Linked DNA regions of Homo sapiens: all the other regions are linked to region 1. The links come from fine-mapping of genetic effects on plasma protein levels. A gene starts in region 1. Each other region holds a variant in brackets. All regions are shown on one strand. Distances are between the middles of the regions.

Region 1 (8,261 bases):
ACAATAGAAAATAAAATACAGTAGTCCCCTTGTTATCCTTGGGGGATACATTCCAAGACTCCCAGCAGAGTACTGAAGGAGAAAATTGTGATCCACAGTTTTTCTACACAGCTAAGTAGTAATTCACACATGAAGGCAAAAGGAAGAGTTTAGTCTTGTTTTATGTAAATTTGAATTATGTCTATTTTCTATTTAAAATAGTATAATGTAAAAATATGTTTAATAATTTCCAGGGTCTTTTTAAAAAAATTAAGAATCCCTATTTAAGAAATTGTCTTACACCAAAGCTATATGACAACACTTTAGCTAGTAAGCAGAAATATTCACTATTGTTTGTCTATATTATTTGAACTATGCTATTGCATTCATGCACTTTCTGTAAGTGATTTTTATGATTAGTATGCTATTTTTATATTCATGGTTATTATAATTTAAAATATTTTTATATGCTATAACAATGTCAACTCATCTTTTATTAAGTGGTTGTGTTTGTGTTAATGCTGAAAAACAGCTGAAAACAAGCTAGATGTGGTATGCCAATTCAGGAAAGGACACTGATAATAATAATAGCAGTTAATACATTTTGAGTGCTACATATTTTTCTAAATGATTAATATGCATTACCTCTTTTAATACCTAGTTTATAACAGCCCTATGAAAAAGGGGTCTGAGACCAGCCTGGCCAACATGGTAAAACCCCATCTCTACTAAAAATACAAAAATTGGCTGGGCGTGGTAACACATGCCTGTAATCCCAGCTACTTGGGAGGCTGAGGCAAGAAAATCGCTTGAACCCAGGAGGCGGAGGTTGCAGTAAGCCGAGATCATGCCACTGCACTCCAGCCTGGGTGGCACAGAGAGACTCCATCTCAAAAAAAAAAAAAAGTACTATTATTATCCCCAGTCTATAGATGAGAAAATAGCCTCAAAAAGTTGAGGTAACTTGTTCATAAATAACTGAATGTGGGCTGGGCACAGTGGCTCACGCCTGTAATCCCAGCACTTTGGGAGGCCAAGGCGGCAGGATCACCTGAGGTTAGGAGTTCAAGACCAGCTTGGCCAACATGGCTAAACACCATCTCTACTAAAACTATAAAAATTAGCCAGGCATGGAGGCACGCACCTGTAATCCCAGCTACTTGGGAGGCTGAGGCAGGCGAATCACTTGAATCCAGGAGGCAGAGGCTGTGGTGAGTCGAGATCACACCACTGCACTCCAGCCTGGGCTACAGAGCAAGAATCCATCTCAAAGATAAATAAATAAATAAATAAATAAATAAATAAATAAATAATCAAGGGTGGATTTGAACACAGGCTGACTCTAGAGCCTTCCCTATTAACAACTATGCTCTACTGTGTTTCTAATGCTGAGAAAATGAAAAGCAACATTAAAAAATAATAACAGATAAGGATTTATGAGCTCCAAGAACACATTCCTTTTACTTTACCCATATTCCTGAGGGAAAATTAGTCTTTCTTTACATATGTTAAATGAATTAATGGAAAAGAAGGAAAGAATATTCCAGCTACTTGGAAATTAATTAAAATACAGTAGCCCCCTCACCTTATCCTTGGGGGATATGTTCCAAGACCCCCAATGAGTGCCTGAAACTGCAGATAGTACTGAGCCCTGTATATATTGTATTTTTTCCTGTACATATATACCTATAAAAAAGTTTGATTTATAAATTAGCCACAGTAAGAGCATCAACATTAATATATAGAATAATTACAACAATATTCTGTAATAAAAGTTAAGTGACTGTGTAGTCTCTCTCTCTTCAAATATCTTATTGTACTATACTCACTCTTCTAGTGATGCTGTGAAATGATAAAATGTCTATGTGATGGGATGAAGTGATGGAGCAAGATGATGTGAGATTTCATCATGCTACTCAGAAAAGTGCACAATTTAAAACTTATGAATTATTTCTAGAATTTCTCATTTAATGGGGGACTACTGTAAAGACTTTCAAAGGTTTTAAAGACTAGTCATGGTTGTTAAAGAATTTAAATGCAGGATTATATCTAAATAAATATATAATTTCAAGATAAAATGCAAATGATAATTCTCAAAAAAAGAAGTTGAATAAGATAAAATAATAATCTAAAAGTAATAAACTGGCTATAAATTCCCCGATTATACCAACTTTTATTGGTAAAACTAGGAAATAGGAGAAAATTCTTGAAAGAAAGTTACAGTGATTTTCTCATGTTACAAAGACAGGAGCTAAAAAAATATTATTGATGGTTGATGTAAATAATTAGAAAAATTCAGGTAAAAATCTTTTTAAAGAATTTTAAGAATTAATATCAAAATGTAAAACAATGTATTCCTTTCAAATTACTTAAGGAAGGCCAAGCACCGTGGCTCATCCCAGTAATCCTAGCACTTTGGGAGACCAAGGCAGGAGGATTGCTTGAGGCCTGGAGTTCATGGCTGCAGTGAGCTATGATTGTGCCACTCGACTCCAGAATGGTGACAGAGTGAGACCCATCTCATTAAAAAAAACAAAAATGGCTTCAAAAAGTTAAATAAAATATATTTAAAGTTAGAAAGAAATCAAAGAAAACATAAAGAATCAGCAAGGAAGCATTTTAAAAATTACAGATTACCAGTTATACAGTAAATATATTTTATTAAGCTTACCCATTAGAAAGCTCCTTTGATATGATTTTCTTAAACATCTACAAGTGACACACTTAAAACAAAGATTTAGGAAGCTTAAGAGGAAAAGATAAAGACAAAAAAATAGGAATTACATCAAAGTAGAATCTCAGAGGTAAAACTATCACATGAGCAAAGAGGATCACTTTTTTTTATGATCCCTAATACAACTCATACAACTTCATGTACTAAGTAACAGTGCTAAAATATATATAAAGTAGCTTTCCACCATGGCCACCATTGGAGGGCAGCAGCCATGACACTGCACTACCCTATAGCTGTGGGCCTCAACAAGGGCCACAAGGTGACCAAGAATGTGAGCAAGCCCAGGCACAGCCACTGTGGGCGCCTGACCAAACTCACTAAATTTGTGTGGGACATGATCCCAGAGGTGTGTGGCTTCACCCCTAACGAGTGGCGTGGCATGGAGTTACTGAAGGTCTCCAAGGTCAAACAGGCCCTCAAATTCATCAAGAAAAGGGTAGGGACAAACATCTGCACCAAGAGAAGGCAGGAGGAGCTGAGCAACGTCCTGGCTGCCATGAGGAAAGCAGCTGCCAAGAAGGACTGAGCCCCCTGCCATCTGCCTATAATGAAAGCTTTGCAGAATAAAATAAATATAAAATAAAGTAATAAAATTAAATTAAATTTAAAAATAAAATAAAGCAAAACAAAATAAAATATATAAAGTAAAAATTGTTGAAAATGCAAAACAATATGGACATAAATACAGAAACACAGGGAAACTTCTTTAGGCACTCATTTACAGGTAAAAATATGAAATTGAATAAAGGTCATCTGGTGTCAAATAATATAGGCCTTATCTATTATAAGAGTTTGGACTGAAAAGCAAAAGTGAGATAATAAAAAAAAGCTTTTCAGAATATTATTTTGTATAGATATGTGAAGGATGAAGGGTGGGTGAAAGGACCAAAAACAGAAACACAGTCTTCCTGAATGAATGACAATCAGAATTCCGCTGCCCAAAGTAGTCCGACAATTAAATGGATTTCTAGGAAAAGCTACCTTAAGAAGGCTGGTTACCATCTGGGTTTTCACAGTGCTTTCACATTCTTATCACTTTCAACACTACTGCAAATAGGAAGGGACAGTAACATTTAGAAGAGAACAAAACAGAAACTCTTGGAAGCAGGAAAGGTGCATGACTCAAAGAGGGAAATTCCTGTGCCATAAAAGGATTGCTGGTGTATAAAATGCTCTATATATGCCAATTATCAATTTCCTTTCATGTTCAGCATTTCTACTCCTTCCAAGAAGAGCAGCAAAGCTGAAGTAGCAGCAGCAGCACCAGCAGCAACAGCAAAAAACAAACATGAGTGTGAAGGGCATGGCTATAGCCTTGGCTGTGATATTGTGTGCTACAGTTGTTCAAGGTATGCAGTAATTTTTATTTCTCAACCTATAAGTTCCTTTTCTAATGTTTCAAATGTCTTTTCTTCCACTTTTATCCTAAAAGACATGATAAAGTTTTATTTAATCTCACAGATTAGAAGTTACTACAGCTTTAGCACAGAAATGGTGGACATGTTTAAGATACTAGAGATGATTATTGAAACTAGAAATTATGAACTTCATGGAATTTTTGATTTGGCTAGAATATCTGGCAAAAGCCTTTAGCAACAGTTTTAAATGTCTGTTAAGAAGATTTTATATAGCGATCATGTTAACAAGCTTCCTGGGAAAATATTTGAGGATAAAATCAAGGGGGCAAAACAAGCTTCACCTCCAATAAACTTCCTTCATGCTTCCCATTTGTTAGCGATTTGCTTACTAATTTAATGAGAAAATAATCAACATCTTACTTAACTTTTCCCAGTAACAGTTGTGTTAAGTGCTATTTGACAAATTACTATCTTTACCCTTAATGAAAATTCTGCTCACGTTCACCACCAGCTATAAACCACAGCCATCTGTTGCAATCAGATGCATTACTAACTAATGCTATGATCTATTCTAGGCTTCCCCATGTTCAAAAGAGGACGCTGTCTTTGCATAGGCCCTGGGGTAAAAGCAGTGAAAGTGGCAGATATTGAGAAAGCCTCCATAATGTACCCAAGTAACAACTGTGACAAAATAGAAGTGATGTAAGTAATGAACTTGCTGAAGATGACAATGGTGCAGGCTTTTTTGTTTATGTATTTGCATCTAAACTTTAAGACTCTTGTATGTTCTTTTAACAGTATTACCCTGAAAGAAAATAAAGGACAACGATGCCTAAATCCCAAATCGAAGCAAGCAAGGCTTATAATCAAAGTAAGTTACCAAATTACTCCCATGTTATAATCTGTTTTATCCAAGACAGATCTTTTGAAAAAGAAAATAATGTGGACAACTACAGAAAGATTCTGCTATGATCCTGTGTGAAATATTCTGTTAAGGGGTCCTTGGTTGTAACAGCTTCCCCTTCTTACTACATGTTTTTAGATGTCCTGGGGGAAACAAGAACAGCCCAAGTAAATAAAACTCTTGTTTTCTTATTCCAGAAAGTTGAAAGAAAGAATTTTTAAAAATATCAAAACATATGAAGTCCTGGAAAAGAGCATCTGAAAAACCTAGAACAAGTTTAACTGTGACTACTGAAATGACAAGAATTCTACAGTAGGAAACTGAGACTTTTCTATGGTTTTGTGACTTTCAACTTTTGTACAGTTATGTGAAGGATGAAAGGTGGGTGAAAGGACCAAAAACAGAAATACAGTCTTCCTGAATGAATGACAATCAGAATTCCACTGCCCAAAGGAGTCCAACAATTAAATGGATTTCTAGGAAAAGCTACCTTAAGAAAGGCTGGTTACCATCGGAGTTTACAAAGTGCTTTCACGTTCTTACTTGTTGCATTATACATTCATGCATTTCTAGGCTAGAGAACCTTCTAGATTTGATGCTTACAACTATTCTGTTGTGACTATGAGAACATTTCTGTCTCTAGAAGTCATCTGTCTGTATTGATCTTTATGCTATATTACTATCTGTGGTTACGGTGGAGACATTGACATTATTACTGGAGTCAAGCCCTTATAAGTCAAAAGCATCTATGTGTCGTAAAACATTCCTCAAACATTTTTTCATGCAAATACACACTTCTTTCCCCAAACATCATGTAGCACATCAATATGTAGGGAGACATTCTTATGCATCATTTGGTTTGTTTTATAACCAATTCATTAAATGTAATTCATAAAATGTACTATGAAAAAAATTATACGCTATGGGATACTGGCAAAAGTGCACATATTTCATAACCAAATTAGTAGCACCAGTCTTAATTTGATGTTTTTCAACTTTTATTCATTGAGATGTTTTGAAGCAATTAGGATATGTGTGTTTACTGTACTTTTTGTTTTGATCCGTTTGTATAAATGATAGCAATATCTTGGACACATCTGAAATACAAAATGTTTTTGTCTACCAAAGAAAAATGTTGAAAAATAAGCAAATGTATACCTAGCAATCACTTTTACTTTTTGTAATTCTGTCTCTTAGAAAAATACATAATCTAATCAATTTCTTTGTTCATGCCTATATACTGTAAAATTTAGGTATACTCAAGACTAGTTTAAAGAATCAAAGTCATTTTTTTCTCTAATAAACTACCACAACCTTTCTTTTTTAAAAAAAGATCTATATACTTTCCAGGACATTTGAGATGCCTTTAACAATTTTGCCTTATATTTCAGAAACATACACCTATCCGTCATCATGAAAAACTGTTTAGAAATATATTTTAATGGGTAGGTGGGAAAGACAGTTGTTTCTTTTGTCGGCCTTGGGGGGTCTTGATAGTCCAAACCCCCTTCTTACTTGGAGAAAATCCCTTATGTGAGTGTTGGTGGGAGGCCAAAAGAGAGAAGCCAAAGACAGGAGATCCTCTCCTGTAGCCACAACAAGGACTCAGCCATGCTGTTTCTACCCTAGACTTTGAACTCCAGCTGGCATCACAAAGATACTATTAGTAAGAAAATTATTTCAAGCCTGGCAGCAGCAGGAGAAACAATGAAAGTCTTACAGTAGTGTCTTCCCAATGTGTGTTCCTGTAGCATGACTCTGGCTAGTCCTTCCTATCACCTAGTTCCCTTAGGTCTTTGTCCATTTTCCAAGACTTATTCTCCATTGTCCTGTGGATTCTTCAACCTCCAACTAAATTCTTTTTCTCCTTAAGATAGCCAGAGTTGGTTTCTCTGCATGTAACCAAAAGCCTTGACTGATAGCAGTACTCTCTATATAGGCACCCATACATTTGAAAAATAAAAATATTTATTATAGGATTATAATCAGATATATCTATATTGCATTATTATATAGGTTATAGATACAATATAGATTTATAATAAATTGTTATATAAATCTATATAAATATCTATATAGAGATGGGACTTCCATATAAATTCCCTGGATAGTTTTAAGACCTGAATCTGGCTGGGTGCGATGGCTCACATCTGTAATCCCAGCACTTTGGGAGGCCGAAGCGGGCGGATCACCTGAGGTCAGGAGTTCAAGACCAGCATGGCTAACATGGTGAAACCCCATTTCTACTTAAAATGCAAAAAATTAGCCGAGGCTGCTGGCACGTGCCTGTAATCCCAGCTACTCAGGAAGCTGAGGCAGGAGAATCGCTTGAACCCGGGAGGCAGAGGTTGCAGTGAGCTGAGATCATGCCATTGCATTCCAGCTTGGGCAACAAGAGTGAAACTGCACCTCAAAAAAAAAAAAAAAAAAAAGACTTGAATCTAATCTTTGACTACTTACAGTGATTTTTTTTTTAAGTCTCTTTAAAAATAAAAATTCACATAGTCAGCTGGGCATGGTGGCTCACACCTATAATCTGAGCACTTTGGGAGACCAACATAGGTGAATGGCTTAAGCCCAGGAGTTCAAGACTAGCTTGGGCAACATAGCGAAAATTCATCTCTATAAAAAATAGGAAAATTAGCTGGGTATGGTGGCACATGCCTGTAACCTCAGCTACTTGGGAAGCTGAGGTGGATGGATCACTTGGGTCTGGGAGGTTGAGGCTGCAGTCAGCTGTGATCACACCACTGCACTCCAGCCTGGGCAAAAGCCTGCCTCAAAAAAAAAAAAAATTCACAGAGTTAAGGCTGCATGATAAATTGGTATTTGTAAGAAGTATATTAAATATTATAGGCCAGTACATTATTACTGAGAAGAAAACATACACCTAAAGTTCTTCATAGCAAAATAAATATATGAAATATTAATAATTAACATATTTGAGCCAAGATCCTCCCCACCTTGGTACCTTTGCACATACTATTCTCTCTGCCCATTTCTTCACTAAGCTAATGCCTACTAATTGCTTAGGTCTCAGCTTAAATGACTTTTTCTCCAAGAAGCCTTTGAAACCACCACTTCAGCTTTAACTAGATTAGGTGTCCTATTTATTTATTTCCATAACACTCTCTATTTTTCCATCATACTACTTACTGCAATTGTAATTAATGAATTATTCCTGTGCCTAATATCTGCTCTCTCATAAGTGTAAAAGAAAGCTGCTGTAGCCCAGGCCAACAGTACAGTTTCTGGTGCATATCAGACCCTATTGAATGGCAATATA
Region 2 (8,285 bases), 150 kb after region 1:
TATGTAGAGTTTTTACAGCCCAGGTGTATTTGTAACTTGTACCCTAATAATTTAGTTTACACATGGCCCAAGTAAGAGGGGCCTATACATTTTTGCATTGTGCTATTAAAAATACATGATGGGATAAAGGATATTAAAAGATCCTGCACTTCCCAGAGCCCATCTCAATTGAAAGCAAGCCAGCTCCCCACCACACCCTACCAGATAGTCAACCGGGAGGAAGAAAAAAAGAGGGAGAATGAAAGGTGTTGCCCACTTCTGCTGCCTGAGTAGCCAAAGCAAGACTGAGGATGTAATACGTATGTCTCATCATTGGCAGCACTGGCCATAGAATGCTCAGGGCAAGGTGTTAGCAGACAACATTGATGTCCATGATCTTCTTCAGTGGTCCTTAAACTTTAGCACAAGTATGAATTATGTATGGAGCTTGTTAAACCTTCAGATTCCTTCCTGGATTCCAGCGGTAGAGATTCTGATGTTACAGGTCCAGGGTGAGGTGTAGCAACCTGCATGTTTACCAGGAATCTCTAAAGAATCTGTAGCACCAGCCCTGGACCTTTCATTCACTATTCTCTTTTGTGTGTGAGTGTGTGTGTGTGTGTGTGTGTCAGAGTCTCTAGCCCAGGCTAAAGTGCAGTGGTACGATCTCGGCTCACTGCAACCTCTGCCTCCCAGGTTCAAATGATTCTCCTACCTCAGGCTCCCAAGTAGCTGGGATTACAGATGCCTGCCACCATGCCCAGCTAATTTTTGTATTTTTAGTAGAGATGAGGTTTCACCATATTGGCCAGGCTGGTCTTGAACTCCTCACCTCAGGTGATCCACCAGCCTCAGCCTCCCAAAGTGTTAGGATTATAGGTGTGAGCCACCACGCCCAGCCTCATTCACTATTCTGAACATGGTTTTACAGAAGTCAGTCAGTGGGGTTCAACCTCATCGCTTACTATTTAGTGAGTGCCTTTGAGAAATACTAGTAGTATGAATTTTTTTCATAGGAAATCAAATTTATCTTTGTTTAAGTTCCTCCCAGCTTCTCTTTTCCCATGTCACCATCATCTTTCCTCTTAGGGAAATCAGCAAGAATTCTATTATCTGTCTAATGCAAACGAAACATATTAAATCAATCTGTCTACTCTTTATGAGGTTGACCTGAGTCAGCCTGCAGGATTTCTAATCCAGCCTGCAGGATTTCTAATCCAGCTTTATCCACAAATAGTCCATTCATCACCAGCAGTGTATCTAAGCCTTGGAGCTTAAAAAGAATCTAGTTATGTGGACAGCTGTTCCCTTCTCTGGCAACAATACTTGACCACACAGGTCCTAAACCTTATATAAAGAATGAAACTCCACACCCTAACCTGCCCTACCTGGTCACCTAGCACAGGTCCTGGCAAAAATGAGAGGCCCAGTGGCCATGTGGGGGACTGCATGGTCAGTGCTGTCTATCTTATGACGGGGGTGCTTAAAGCCTGTAGGGATATCATGGAACTGGGGATGGCAAGCATGGGAGCTGGGACACAGTTGCTACCCCCTGACATCGTATGATGCATTCATTTGAGTATTCGTTTATTGTTTGCTTTTCCTAGTCTTCATCTGGCCCCGCCCCTTTTCCAGATGAGGACATTGAGGCCCCAGATGACTTGTCTGAAACCACAGAGCTTGTCAGGGCAGTTCTAGGTCTAGATCCCAGGTGTCCTGACATCCAGTCTATTGTCACAATATCAAAATGTCCACCCCACCCCCGCATTATAACCTGTCAGGGATGCTGCATCCTTGCAATCTCATGAGTTTACATCTCCTTCTCGGAATCCTGGCAGTCCAACCTTTTCATCCCTATACAGAAATGTTTTCATCAATACATGGGAATTCTAATCAACCTACAGTGATATGAGTATAACCATCAGGCAGGAATGAAGGGGAGGGGCAGGAAATGGGGAAAAGCACTATTGCCAGCAGAAAGGGAAATACTTCCTATGGGCGTCAATGGGTAGTGCTTCTGCTCCATCTTGTCCTCACATATACAGTGGGAGAGGGCTGAGCAGCTTCCTCTCCCTACCCCCAAACCCCTGGCCCAGGGAGTCCGAGCTCACAGGCTTGCTTCTCCATCGGTGTCATAGCCTTCAAGGCAGCAGCCCTGATCCAGAGATGGTACCGGCGCTACGTGGCCCGCCTGGAGATGAGGCGGCGTTGCACCTGGAGCATCTTCCAGTCTATAGAATATGCTGGGCAGCAAGACCAAGTCAAGGTACAATGAGATGTGGGACGGAGCCGCCTCCTGCTCTCCCTTGGGCAGCAGGGCTCGGGTGCTCCTAAAGTGAGGCCAACTGGACTACTTGTGGGTTCTCTTTTCGCTCACCTCTAAAGCCACGTCTCCTTGGGTTCTTCTGCAGCTCCATGACTTCTTCAGCTATCTCATGGATCACTTCATCCCCAGCAGCCACAACGACAGTGAGTATGAACTGCCACATGTCATGTCCTCCTGTCGCAAGGCCATAGATTACACGGTGAGGTGGGGGATGCACAGGGAGTGAAACCGTGAATCTGGTGACAGCCAGGGAATAAGCAAGGGGCTGAGGAGTAAATGGCAGACTGGGGTTTTATGCCAGGTTCTCCTGAACACACACCTGGAGACAAGAGTTTGGACGCAAGGAATTCATTTATTAAGTTCAAGAAACCCTGGGGGTGGGAGGGAGTGGGGAAGGGATTCAGGAAAGGAATCGCAGCCAGTCCAGCAACTCAGTGTGCCTAGGAAACAGTGCAAAACGCAAGCCTCAGAATTATACCCCCTGCAGGCAAAGGGAACTGGAGTTTTTCTGTGTCAACTCCAGGAGTCATTGGTTGAAAGCGGCTGGGGAGGTGGGAGAGAAGTATAGGAAGGAGGCTTTTTCTTTTCTTTTCTTTTCTTTTTTTTTTTTGAGACAGAGTCTCGTTCTGTGACCCAGGCTGGAGTGCAGTGGCATGATCTTGGCTCACTGCAACCTCTACCTCCCGGGTTCAAGTGATTGAACCTCAGATACCCAAGTAGCTGGGATTACAGGTGTGCACCAACACACCTGGCTGATTTTTTATATGTTTAGTAGAGATGGGCTTTCACCATGTTAACCAGGCTGGTCTTGAACTCCTGGCCTCAAGCGATCCACCTGCCTCGGCCTCCCAAAGTGCTGGCATTACAAGCGTGAACCACTGAGCCAAGCCAGGAGGTTGTTAATTCCATAGCATTTCTGGCCTGCCATCCGGATCCAGGAAATAAGTCCTCAGTCTGGAGATGCCAATGCTGGCAGCTGGAAGCTGCTGGAAGGCACTGCCAGGTCTGATGCACCTGTTGCGCTCACTAAATGCAACATAAATACCTGTGATTTTTCCACACTGGCTTTCCCCTTTCCTTCTGCTTGCAAATCCAGGTCCCTAAATTTCTGTACTCTCTAAGTCTGACAAATCTTGATCTTTTAGAATAAAAGTAGAAAGCATGACTTTTTCCTCCTGCCCATCCTAGACTGTTGTCACTTTCTCCTTCCTTTTTCCTCTTCTGTGCTGGAGCTGAAGCTGAAGCCAGATTAACCATGTCCTGCTTCAATAGTCCAGGGAAGGACTTTTTTTTTTTTTTTTTGAGACAGGGTCTCACTCTATCGTTCAGGCTGGAGTGCAGTAGTATCATCTCTGCTCATTGAAACCTCTGCATCCCAGGCTTATGTGATCCTCCCATCTCAGCCTCTTGAGTAGCTGGAACTACAGGTGTGTGACACCATGGCTGGCTAAATTTTTAAATTTTTTTTGTAGAGGCAAGGTTTCCCTATGTTGCCTAGGCTGTTCTCAAACTCCTGGGCTCAAGCAATCCTCCCTCCTTGGCCCCGCAAATTTCTGGGATTAGAGAGCCACCGTGCCCAGCCAAGGACTATTCTATAGTGCCCACAGACTGCATGATCAGATGATCATAAGCTGATCCACCTTTTCTATCTGGACTAGGGGACTTCCTGACCCGCATATTCACTGAGGACAGATTCGCCCAGGACTCCGAGATGAAGAAATGCAGTGACTATGAATCCATAGAGGTACCCGACAGTTACACGGGGCCACGCCTCTCCTTCCCACTCCTGCCTGACCATGCAACTGCCCTGGTAGAAGCATTCAGACTGAAACAAGTAAGCTCACCTGGGGAACCTGGGTCACTACCAACTCCATGAAATGTGTGAAGGGAGACGAAACCCAGCACAGAAAGAATGGCCCCAGATTTAGGGTGTTCATGTCATGTGTCCACTAGAGAGATTCTACCCCTGCTGTGCTTAGCCAGGACCTTGCAGTCAATCAGCCAGTTCTGATGATTGACAGCTTTTCTTCCTAATCACATAATCTCTCATTGTTCATTCATCCCACACATAACTACTGAGCACTGCTGTGTGCCCCACATTGCTCTGGGCACTGAGGATACAGCAGTGAACAAAACAGATAAAATCTCTGCCCTTATGGGGCTGGCATTCCATCGGGGAGGCAGACAATGAACAATAAATAACAATAAATAAGACAATTATGCAGTATATTAGAAGGCGATGAGAGCTATGGAAAAGAATAAACTAAGTTATGGATGGAAGAAATAGCAATTTTATAGAGTTGTCTGGGAAGGTGATTTCTGAGCAAAGATCTAAGGTGGTGAGGAATGCGCCGGAGAAAGAGCGTTCCAGGTAGAGGGAGGAACACATGGAAAAGCCCTGAAGCAGAAACTTGCCTGGACTGTTCACGAACCTCGGGAGGCCACTGTGGCTGGAGAAGAGGGAGCCAGGGGAAGAGTAATGGAGGTGAGGGGGTGGACTTTTATTCTTCCAAAAGAGACAGGGAGACAGCAGACATAGGAATGACATAATCTGACTTGTTTTTTTGTTTTGTTTTTTTGAGACAGAGTCTC[G/A]CTCTGTCATCCAGGCTGGAGTACAGTGGCGCGATCTCGGCTCACTGCAACATCCGCTTCCTGGGTTCAAGCGACTCTCCTGCCTCACCCTCCTGAGTAACTGCCACTGCAGGCACCCGCCACCACACCCGGCTAATTTTTTTATATTTTTAGTAGAGATGGAGTTTCACCATGTTAGCCAGGATGGTCTCGATCTCCTGACCTCATGATCTGCCTACCTCAGCCTCCCAAAGTGCTGGGATTACAGGCGTGAGCCATCATACCCAGCCCTGACTTGTTTTTTAAAATAATCATTCTGGTTGCTGTGTTAAGACAGTGTAGGCGGCAAGGGCCAAAGTAGGGTGACCAGTCAAGAGACTACTGCAATCGTCCAAGCGAAAGATGACAGTGGCTTGGAACTCTGATGGTAGGGTAGAGGTAGCGAGATAGTCAGCTTCTGGCTCTATATCAGAATTCAATCCTTCCCCTCTTCCACATGAATGTAACTCATTGCAGGAGGAGCTGAGCTGATATATTCCAGTAATGACAGGATCACTAAGTACCATCAACACACCTGCACTTAGTCATACTTTACTGAAACAATCACATGGTCTTCCCATGCTAAAGGCAAGGAAGCATTTAATAGAGTAGAAAGGAAAGAGAAAAGTAGCTCAATATTTGCAGGGGGGGCAAGTGGGAATGATGAGAAGCAGAAACAAGGGCAGAAGTTGAGTGATAAAGAAAGAATCCGTGCATAGTCCCAGGAGCAGTTTACTGGGGTTACTTTTGGGGTCTTAGGTGATGGGGGTTGTTAAGCAGTAAAGGTAAGGACCATTTTCCCTCACGAATATCAGTGTTGTTTTCTTCCTTCCCTCCTCTTCCTCCCAGTAGCAGCTCCATGCTCGCTACGTCTTGAACCTTTTGTATGAAACCAAGAAACATCTGGTACAGCTGCCAAACATCAACCGGGTCTCAACCTGTTACAGTGAGGAGATCACAGTGTGTGGTAAGAGCTGGTCAGAAACGGCTTTCCATGCTGCACACAAAGAAGAATGCTCTACCTGTGTGGGGATGCAAGAGGAGTGGCGGGCTGCAGGGAGATGTGATGATAAGCCAAATTTAACCCCTTCAGGTCCACAATTTGCATATTCACTCCACATTTACCTAAAAAAGAGGTGGTGGTGCAGCGAAGGGGATCATGGACCTCAGGGCCCAGCCTCTGCTTTATTTTCCCAAGCAATTCCTACTGACTCAAACTCATGTTCTTCATTCAAAACAAAATCTCTGCAAATAACCAGACCCTCCTTGTTAGAAGATGGTTTATTTAATGGTACTTGAGAAAGCCCCGATGACTAGCAAATTATTCCTCCCATCCACACACATTCCTCTCCTGGAAAGAAGTCCTGTTAATGACTGTTTTCCCCATCTTATGTTTCCAGTGATTTTTAACATCCACTGTAGACAGACATCCCACACCTTAACCTAGTGGAGGCTCCAGTGCAGGAGGGATTGTAACTGGCCCTGCTAGGGTCACCTGCAGCCTGCAGATGGTCTTGCCTGCCTTGCAATGTTCATAAAGTTTTTTTTTTTTTTTTTTTTGAGACACAGTCCCGCTCTGTCGCCCAGGCTGGAGGGCAGTGGTGCAATCTCGGCTCACTGCAAGCTCCGCCTCCCGGGTTCACACGATTCTCCTGCCTCAGCCTCCCGAGTAGCTGGGACTACAGGCGCCCGCCACCACGCCCGGCTAATTTTTTGTATTTTTAGTAGAGATGGGGTTTCACCGTGTTAGGCGGGATGGTCTTTATCTCCTGACCTCGTGATCCGCCCGTCTCAGCCTCCCAAAGTGCTGGGATTACAGGCGTGAGCCACCCGCCCGGCCCATAAACTTTTAAAAATGGTATTTCAACATTGGAAATTTGGAGGATTTTATATTATGATCTAGATTTTGCTTTAAAAGTCTCCTGAAAAATCTTTTAACACTGGCTCATAAGTGAGTAGCTGCTTTCTAGTTTAACGTGGGCAAAATCTCTCCAGTTCTCATCTAGGTTTGCAACCTTGCACTATTCTATCGCATCTTTGCTTCAATAAAAATGTAGCTCATTTACTATTTATAATAATCCGGCAGAAAAAATATTATGCCTTCTGCTTTCAATACTATCTCTGCAATAAGGAGAAATTAATATTTATCCTTATCTTACATATGGAAAACTTTGTAGGGTTTTTTCTGTCAGATTCTTCTGGGTATTTTCTTTCTTATAATAAAAATCAGAAGCACTGGTAAGGAACAATCAGAATTGATATTCTTTTTCTATCTTTGTTAGGAGACTTACATGGCCAATTGGATGACTTAATCTTTATATTTTATAAGGTATGAATGTTCAAATTAAGTTGCTTTCTTGCTCTGAAGCTTAATTTAGAAGCTCAAATTCAGTATCAATTGAACAAATGCTTAAATATTACTTGAAGTTTTAAAATATTATTATTTATTTTTATTTTTTTGAGATGGGGGTCTCAATCTGCCACCTAGGCTGGAGTGCAGTGGTGCGATCTAGGCTCACTGCAACCTCTGCCTCCCAGGTTCAAGCAATCCTCCCACCTCAGCCTCCCGAGTAGCTGGGACCACTAGTGCATGCCAACATGCCCTAATTTCTTTATTTTTTTCACTTTTTCTTTTTCAAACCCTTGTGTCGAGGGCTGACTTTCAGTAGATCACAGCGAGGGAGCTGCTCTGCTCAGTGCGAAATCCTGACCCAGAAGCAGGTCATCTACGAACAGTTTAATGTCAGGTTCCCCACGAACGTGCCGTTGCATGACGGGTGAGGGGCGGCCGCCTTTCCGGCCGCACCCGGTTTCCCAGGAGGAGGGACTCTCCGCACCGGCCTCGGGTACCTGCGCGCTTGCTGAGCCGAACTGCGGGCCGGCGGGGATGGCAGGAGACTGGCTATCCCAGGCCATTGGGAGACTGGCTATCCGAGGCCAACTGAGGCCCTGCAGCGCTGCCCTGTGGTTCAGCCTGGGCGGGATTCTGACTTAGAGGCATTCAGTCAAAATCCCACAGAGGGTAGCTTTGTCCCATTGGCTCCTTAGCCAAGCACATACACCGAATGTCTGAACCTGCGGGTTGGTACTGAGCAGGATTACCATGGCAACAACAGATCATCAGTAGGGTAAAACTAACCTGTCTCATAATGGCCTAATTTTTTTTTTTTTAAGACAGAGTTTCGCTCTTCTCGCCGAGGCTGGAATGCAATGGCACGATCTCGGCTCACTGCAACCTCCGCGTCCCAGGTTCAAGTGATTCTCCTGCCTCGGCCTCCCAAGTAGCTGGGACTACAGGCGTGCACCACCACGCCCGGCTAATTTTTGTATTTTTAGTAGAGACAGGGTTTCACCATCTTGGCCGGGCTGG
Region 3 (8,285 bases), 32 kb before region 1:
AGGGAGACCTTGTCTCTACAAAAAAATTTTAAAAATTAGCCAGGTGCAGTGGCACATGTCGGTAGTCCTAGCTACTTGGGAGGCTAAGACAGGAAGATCTCTTGAGCCCAGGAGTTGCAGATTACAGTGAGCTATGATGGTGCCACTGCACCCCAGCCTGGTCAACAGAGTAAGACCCTGTCTCAAAAACAAAAACAAAAACAAAAAAAAATGTTTAGACTTAAATGCAGGATATAATTTGAAGATTGAGGCAATAGGATGTACTGACAAACTAGATGTGGGCTGCAAGAAAAAGAGGGGAGTAAAGAATAGTTCCAAGATTTTTAGCTTGAATAGCTGGAAGGATGGAGTTGTCATTGATTGACATGGAGAAGACCGTGTGTGGAAAAAGTATCCTGGAACTCAAGTGAAGAAAATACTTACAAAAGAAAGGAAAGATCAAATGTGTTAAAAGCTTCTGATAGGTCAAGTAAGATGAGGACTGAGAACTGACCATTGGATTTAGCAATGTGGAGGATATTGAAAGTTTTGTTTAAGAGCAGGTCTGATAGAAGAGTGGAGATGAAAGCCTGGTTAGAATGGCCTAAGAAAGAATGAAAAGAGGAATTGGAGACATTGGAGATGGTTAATATCTTCAACTCTTTCAAGGAGTTTTTCTATAAAGGACATAAAAGGAATGAGGCAGTATAGCTTGATGGTGGGACCAGGGAAAAGGTAAAGAAGAGAGTCCAAGAATTTTTTTTTTTTTTTTGAGATGGAGTCTCGCTCTGTCACACAGGCTGGAGTGCAGTGGCACGATCTCAGCTCACTGCAGCCTCCGCCTCCCTATCTCGGCTCACTGCAGCCTCTGCCTCCCCAGTTCAAGCGATTCTCCTGCCTCAGATTCCAGAGTAGCTGCCCACTACCAAGCCTGGCTAATTTTTGTATTTTTACTAGAGACGGGGTTTCACCATGTTGGCCAGGCTGGTCTTGAATTCTTGGCCTCAAATGATCCGCCTGCCTTGGCCTTCCAAAGTGCTGAGATTATAGGCATGAGCCACTGTGCTTGGTCAGAAATATTTTTAAAGACAGAAAAAAACCAGCATGTTGGATATGATCTAGTAGATAGAGGAAAAAACTAATAATATAGCAAAGAGAGGGTAGAATGATTGGGTCAATCTTCTTGAGTAGGCAAAAGGGGATGAGACATAGCATACAAGCAGATGAGGTGGCCTTAGATAAGAGCAGGAGAGGTTCATCTAATATGAACAGGAGGAAAGGCACAGTATATTGGCAGATGCTGGAAAGAAGTGGGTTGCAATAAAAATTCTTTTCTACTTGCTTCAATTTTCTCAAAAAAGTAGTAACAAAAGATGATGGTTTAAGTGACAGAGACTTGAAGAAATTGGAGAAAGAATGAAATAGTCATCTAGAAAAGGAGAAGAGTGAATGCCTTATGATTGCTGGGCTGCATTAAGGGGCTACCTGAATTTAAAATGAAATCACTTAAGATGGTTGTATTTTTCTCCAGCTACGTTCAGTTCCATGGTAGATGCAGACTAAGCTAAATTGGATTGAATAAAGACTGTAGCTTTTTCAAGCAAGGATAAAATGATTATTTTATTGAATGATTACGGGCAAAAGATCTGAACTGACACTTCACAAAGGAAGATATATAAATGACAAACAAGTAGAAAACGATGTTCAACATTATTAGCATCAGGTAAATGCAAATTAAAACCACTATACATCCACTAGAATGGCTAAAATTAAAGACTAACAACATAAAATGTTGATGAGAATATGGAGCTACTGAAACTTTCATACATTACTGATGGGAATGCAAGATGATACAGCTATTTTTTAAACAATTTGGCAGTTTTCATAAAGTTAAACTTATATATTTACCATATGACCCCGTAATTCTACTTACAGGAATTCATTATACTTAAAAGAACAGGAATTCATTATACTTAAAAGAAATTATTAAAGTGTATGTTCACACCTGTCAAATGTTCACAGCAGGTTGATTCATAATAGTCAAAAGGTAGAAACAACCCAAATGTCATCAACTGGTAAATGGATAAACAAATGAAATAACACTCAGCAATAAAAAGGAACAAATGTCCTCAAAATGTTAAACATAGGGTTACTACATGATCCAGAAATTTCCCCACTCCTAGGCATATATCTTGGGTATATGCCCAAGATCCAGAAATTCCACTCTGAGGCCTACATCTTGGGTATGTTATATGTGCACACAATCACTTGTGCACAAATGTTCATAGCAGTATTATCTATAATATAATATAAATATAAATATATCTATAAATATAATAGTCAAAAAGTGGTCTAGATTTCAGTCCAAATGTCCACCAACTAGTAAATGGATATACAAACTGTGATATACCCACACACTGGAATATTATTCCACAATAAAAAGGAATTAAGGCCGGATGCAGTGGCTCATGCCTGTAATCCCAGGACTTTGGGAGGCCAAGGCAGGCGGATCACTTGAGATCAGGAGTTCGAGACTGGCCTGGCTAACATGGTGAAACCGTGTATCTACTAAAAATACAAAAATTAGCCAAGTGTGGTGGCGCGTGCCTGTAATCCCAGCCATTAGGGAGTCTGAGGCAGGAAAATCGCTTGAACCCGGAAGGTGAAGGTTGCAGTGAGCTGAGATAGTGCCACCGCACTCCAGCCTGGGTGATAGAGACAGACTGTGTCTCAAAAAAAAAAAAAAAAAAAAAGGAATTAAGTACTGATACATTTACATGAAATGTCCAGAGTAGACAGATCTATACAGACAGAAAGTAGATTATTGATTTTTTTAGGGCTGGACGTATAATGGGGAAATGAGGAAGACTGTTAATGCGTACTAGGCTTCTTTTTAGAGTAATGAAAACATTTCATCTCCCCAAAAAAGTCACCACATGTCCTTTGTAGTCAATCTCCTCCCTTCACCCAAGGCTCTGGAAGTCACTGATCTTCTTCCTGTCACCAGTTTTGCCTTTCCCAGCATGACATGTTAACTATTATCATACAGTCAGTATGTAATTTTTTATGACTAACTTCTTAGCATAACACTATGAAATCTATCAATGTTGTTGCATGTATCAGTAGTTCTAAAAATGATTGCAGTGATGGTTGCACAAATCTGTACACACAATAAAAACTATTTAAGCCATGCACAGTGGTTGGAGTAGCTAAAGGAGGATCACTTGAGCCTAGGAGTTCAATGCCACTGGGGCAACACAGTGAGACCTCATTTCTTAAAAACAAAAACAAAAACAAAACCCATACAAGTGAATACTTTACATGAATGAATTTTTTTTCTTTTAAACTTTTATTTTAGGCTCAAGGGTACATGTGTAGGTTTGTTATATAGGTAAACTCGTGTCAGAGGGGTTTGTTGTACCCATTACTTCATCACCCAAGTACTAAGCCTAGTACACAACAGTTATTTTTTTTTTTATCCTCTATCCTCTTCCCCTTCCCACCCTCCACCCTCAAGTAGGCCCCACTGCCTGTTGGTCCCCCCTTTGTGTCCATGTGTTCTCATGATTTGGCTTCCACTTACAAGTGGTAACATGTGATATTTGGTTTTCTGTTCCCGCATGAGTTTGCTAAGGATAATGGCCTCTAGCTTCATCCATGTTCCTGTAGAGGACATAATCTCATTCTTTTTTATGGCTGCATAGTATTACATGGTATATATGTACCACATTTTCTTTATCCAGTCTTCCTTAATGAATGGTATTGTATGTGAATTGTATCTCAATAAACATGCTTTGAAAAAGAATAAACTATTAATACATGCCACAATATGGGCATGAGGGAACACATTTTTTGGGTGATGAAATGTTTTATATCATGATTGTAGTAGATGTTACATGATGATATACATTTGTCAAAAGTCACAGAACTGTACACTTCAAATTTGTGAATTTTATTTACATAAGTCATACCTAAATAAGGCAAATTTTAACAAACAACAACAAAAACTATCTTGCCTACATACTCCCTGAAATTTGTGTACCCCCAGATATATATGTATCCCAATTTGAAGACTACCACAGTAAAGTATCTGTAATGCAATGGCCCATGAATGATGAGGAAAGAGAACTAGGTGAGTCAAAGGAGCCTAGGGTTGTGGTAAGATAAATACAAGGTATTTATATTTTAGAGACTGGATGCCAAGGCACAACATTACAGTGGTGAGTGCAAATTTCTATCAGCCAAAGACCAAGCAGGATCAGATACCTCGGGGAAGGCCAATGACCGCTAGAGGTCAGCACCAGAACAAGATATTTCTTCAATGGCAGGCCACTGCTCTTAGGAAGAAAAAGAACTCTGAATTTAAATATTTATTCAAAGAAAACTTTCAACTTTGAAGTGACTAAATTTTAATTGACAAGATTAAGTGTTTTTACTGTTACCAAATTTTAACTGACAAGATTAGTGTTTTACATGGGGGTTTGTGAACTACGTTGATTTCCAATAAAGAGAAATACATATTCCTTTTTGCACATGATTCCTCACACTATGACATACTGACACTGGGAAAAATTGTAGTTTGTTCTCTGTTCTCTGTTAGTTCTAGCTGTTAGTCTGGTCTCCAGCAATGGTGACATTTAATTGCTAGCTCAGTAATTTAGTGTTTTTTTATAGATTTTGGGAAAATG[TTTGC/C]TAAATTCCCCCATCGTAGCCTCCTGGCATTGGGCATTCTAAAGACAAACAATTTCTATGTCCTTTCACCCTGTTCGGTGGGCCTCCCACAAACTCAAGATGCACTCCTTTGCCCTTGGCGGGCATCTTCTTAAAGAAGATCATAAACTGGTTTGTACCCCAGTTACCTTCCCTAAGCCCAAAGGGAAACCTAGGAATTCTATCATGACAACTTTGATTTTAGAAAACTGGAGAGAATCTTTTGTCCTTTCCCAACTCATTCTGCTACTTTGTTATGTTCAACTTGTTAAATATAATGCTTTTTCTAAGAGACCTTAAAAATTCTCCAGTTTGCCCAAGTGATGGTGGCAGCCACTCCAGTTGGCCTGCCATCATCCCAGCTGTGGCAGGAAGGTGTGGCCAGGGCTGCCTGTTCCACAGAGCAGGCAGGAGCCCTGCCCTCCTGGGCAGGGGTGCAACTGCCCAAACTATGGCAGCAGACTCAGGTATCCCTGCACTCTTGGGGGCCTGGGAAGGCCCCCCTGCCCTCACAAGCTTAAAAGTGCCTGCTCCCACTGCTTGGCTTCTCCCTGCTGTTGGCTCCTGCTCCAATCTTGGAGCAAAGTCAGGCTGAGCCTGGGCGTCATGAGTAGTAGGAGGCAGAGTCCCACGTGGAAGGGGGTGGGTCTCCAGTAAGGTCCTTCTGTCAGGTCAGGGAGGGCCTGAAGGCTGGGGCCCAGGCTGCCAGTTCCACTGACTGGAGTGGACACTGGTGCCTTTTCCAGGCCTGCCCATGACCACCCATGGGCCAACCAGTGTGCACTTCCTCCCCTCTGAGGTCCATAAATAGCCGGGCTCAGCCAGAGCTGAGCAGAAGATGGGATGACCAGCAGCAGAGAGGAGCTACCCTCTCTGCTAATTACGCTCTCTGCTAATAGCTTCAGAGATCTGCAGAGACTGCCGAATGACCTGCCTGCAGAGAAAAGCAGACCTCAGGATGACCAGCGAGCAGAGAGAAGCTGCCATCTCCAGGGCCTCCTCTCTGTTGAGAGCTGAACACTTGACAGACGACCTGCCTGCCCACAGAGGGGAGCTACCCACTGTGGGTCTCCTTCTGAGCAGTTACAGCACTAAATAAATCTCCTCTTCTTCTTCCTCACCCTTCATTTGTCTGCATACCTCATTCTTCCTGGACGCAGGACAAGAAATGGGGCAAAGGCCCCACTGGCAACAGAGGTTTACAGGGGAAGAAAATCAACACCCCAAAGATCCTATAACACAAGGAGAAGTATGAAAAGAAAAAATCTCTGCTGCTAAAAGATTCCCTGAAAATTACTAGGGTGTTTCTAAACCCCTACATCAATGCTTTCTAGGGTTTCAGTCCAGAGGAGCCACAGGAGTCTGAATTCTCTTTTCTCCTTTTCTCTGTTCTAGAATCAGGTCTTCCACTCCCAATTCCTGTTAGGCATTGCTTCCTATGTGCTATTTCTTTCACCTTTATCCTATGTACTTCTTATTCTGGCATTATCAACCTTTTCCTTCCTTCAGACTACTAAGGATAATCTTAAAGGTTACAGAGTACAGACAGACTTTATAAAGGGAATGAAACATATATCTATTTAGTATTTTCAAAATAATGCGTATTATCCCTACACCATTCAATATATAATGATTAGATTGCTTTATTATATTTAATATATTGATGTTATATAATACAACATATTCATATATGTATATATTATTATAATGTAATATTATATTTGTGGACAAATCCTATTGGTAGATTTTAGGCCTCTAGGCTTTAATTCTCAACTTTCTTTCCCCCTATTTCAGTGAGAGAGACACATTCTTATCAAGGACAAGGAGTCTCTATGGTAATGATTTCAACGAGTGTGTGTGTGTGTGTGTGTGTGTGTTGGAGGGTTATATCAGAGTGTGGGAGGTTCAGGAGGTCCTTGAATAAGGCCATTTCATTATACCATTAATGAGAAAAAAACCTGATTCTCAGCCAGGACTACTGTCTATGTGGAGTTTGTACATTCTCCCCATGTCTGTGTGGGTTTCTCCAGGGACTCTGGTTTCCTCCCACATCCCAAAGATCGGCATGTTAAGTGAACAGGTTTGGAAATGAATGAATGAACACCAATTATTGTATAATAAAAATTCCAAAAGTATACAATAATAATACAAATGCACAAGATTAAATGATTCAGTACAAAAGCACTCAGTGAGCTCGCCATATTTGTAATTGTTTGTTTTTGAACTTTGTGGTGTTAAGAAGTGCACCTCACAATTTTTGCTTTGCAAACACTTCCTCCTTGATTGAACTCACCACCACTATGGCTACCATTACTCACGCCTGTGATCCCAGCACTTTGGGAGGCCAAGGTGGGCAGATCACTTGAGCTCAGGAGTTCGAGACCAGCCTGGCCAACATGGTGAAACCTCGTCTCTACTAAAAATACAAAAATTAGCCAGGCATGGTGGCAGGTGCCTGTAATCCCAGCTACTCAGGACGCTGAGGCAGGAGAATCGCTTGAACCTGGAAGGTGGAGGTTGCTGTGACCCATGATCTTGCCACCGCACTCCAGCCTGGGTGACAGAGTGAGACCCTGTCTCAAAAAAAAAAAAAAATTTACTCAATATTCCAACTCCCATCTTTCTACCAACACTGATAATTGAAGCAATATTGTTAGTATATTTTAAAGCATCCACTTTCAATATTCTCTTTTTGGTACTCATTTTGTAATAAGAGGACGTTAGCACTGTTACCCTTCCCTTCACCTCCTTTCTGCCTTTCACCTCCCAGCTTCCATCAGTAGTTCTTTTATCTTTATGTTGTCAAAATGTAATAACATTTGCTTTTTGTTCTGTAGCCATGCTTTAAGTAAAGGTCTATTCTAAAATTAAAAATCAAAAGTATAGTTTACTGCAAGTTTATTGCAACCAGCTATATATTCTTTAGTATAAAGACAAGACACAAGTTAGGATTTTATTTCCATCTCTGCTGTTTCAATGTCATGATCACTATTCACACTCAAAACAAAACATTTTTATGTCAAGATCAAATGAATATTCCTTTCCCATACTCCACTAATCCCTTAAAATCATGCCTCACTTTTGTCTCTTTTGTATTTAGATCACTAAAATTTTTTATTTTTCCTTTAGTTTCTGAGTGCCTTTTTTGGTGGTGATGGTAGTGGTGATCATGGTGGTTGTTGGGAAAAGTAGTATTTGTCTCCATCGTGTACCTAATGTGCTTCTATTTCCAATTCTATTGCTTGGAATCCATTTTGTTCTTATTCTTGAAGACCAGTTCTAACCTGGACAAACTGCTCTCCAGGCCAACAACTAGGAGACTAGAAAATCTTTCAATTGAATCCCTGGGTACTTTTTCCATTTCTTGTACTCTACAGTGGTTTTATTTTTTTAATTTATTTTTTGTCTCATGCTACTGCATCTACAGCTTTTTGCTTCATATTTATCTTTGTTTTGTAGGAATATATTCTGAAATTATTTCCTTAAAAAGGATGCATGGAAGATAAACATTTTCAGTGCTTTCATTTTTGAAATGTGAATCTGATGAACAGTTGGCTAGTATATAATTCTAGGTTCAAAATAATTTTTCCTCAGAA

Direction of the effects. Alleles are on the strand shown, and positions count from the first base shown. The strength of an association depends on the size of the effect and on how common the allele is.
For the plasma level of the protein whose gene starts at base 3,919 in region 1, A is the low allele of the variant in region 2 and G is the other (moderate association).
With allele TTTGC in place of C in region 3, the plasma level of the protein whose gene starts at base 3,919 in region 1 is higher (moderate association).

The links. PIP is the posterior inclusion probability: the model's chance that the variant is causal. Protein levels are from antibody-based Olink assays in UK Biobank. Linkage for the fine-mapping came from a reference panel and not from the study's own genotypes, which makes the PIPs less certain.
Region 2: its variant is fine-mapped to the plasma level of the CXCL11 protein (UK Biobank, PIP above 0.99).
Region 3: its variant is fine-mapped to the plasma level of the CXCL11 protein (UK Biobank, PIP 0.95).

The regions. Positions count from the first base shown.
Region 1 is chr4:76,031,728-76,039,988 of GRCh38, reverse strand. CXCL11 (C-X-C motif chemokine ligand 11) reads left to right here and starts at 3,919. Exons shown (of 4, transcript NM_005409.5): 1 at 3,919-4,062; 2 at 4,647-4,773; 3 at 4,870-4,942; 4 at 5,173-6,307. The coding sequence starts at 4,002. The coding sequence ends at 5,196. It also overlaps a transcript of ART3 not described here and the pseudogene RPL36P8.
Region 2 is chr4:75,885,811-75,894,095 of GRCh38, reverse strand. It overlaps PPEF2 (protein phosphatase with EF-hand domain 2), which reads left to right. Exons shown (of 17, transcript NM_006239.3): 3 at 2,118-2,245; 4 at 2,391-2,448; 5 at 3,964-4,139; 6 at 5,768-5,882; 7 at 7,198-7,244. It overlaps LOC105377285 (a long non-coding RNA gene), which reads right to left. Exons shown (of 2, transcript XR_938895.3): 2 at 5,632-5,853. Among named protein-coding and RNA genes, the nearest start is that of PPEF2, 12 kb to the left of the region's middle. RefSeq lists a silencer at 7,826-8,120. The variant G/A (reference allele first, on the strand shown) is at 4,898.
Region 3 is chr4:76,063,834-76,072,118 of GRCh38, reverse strand. It overlaps a transcript of ART3 not described here. Among named protein-coding and RNA genes, the nearest start is that of ART3, 6.7 kb to the left of the region's middle. The variant TTTGC/C (reference allele first, on the strand shown) is at 4,668.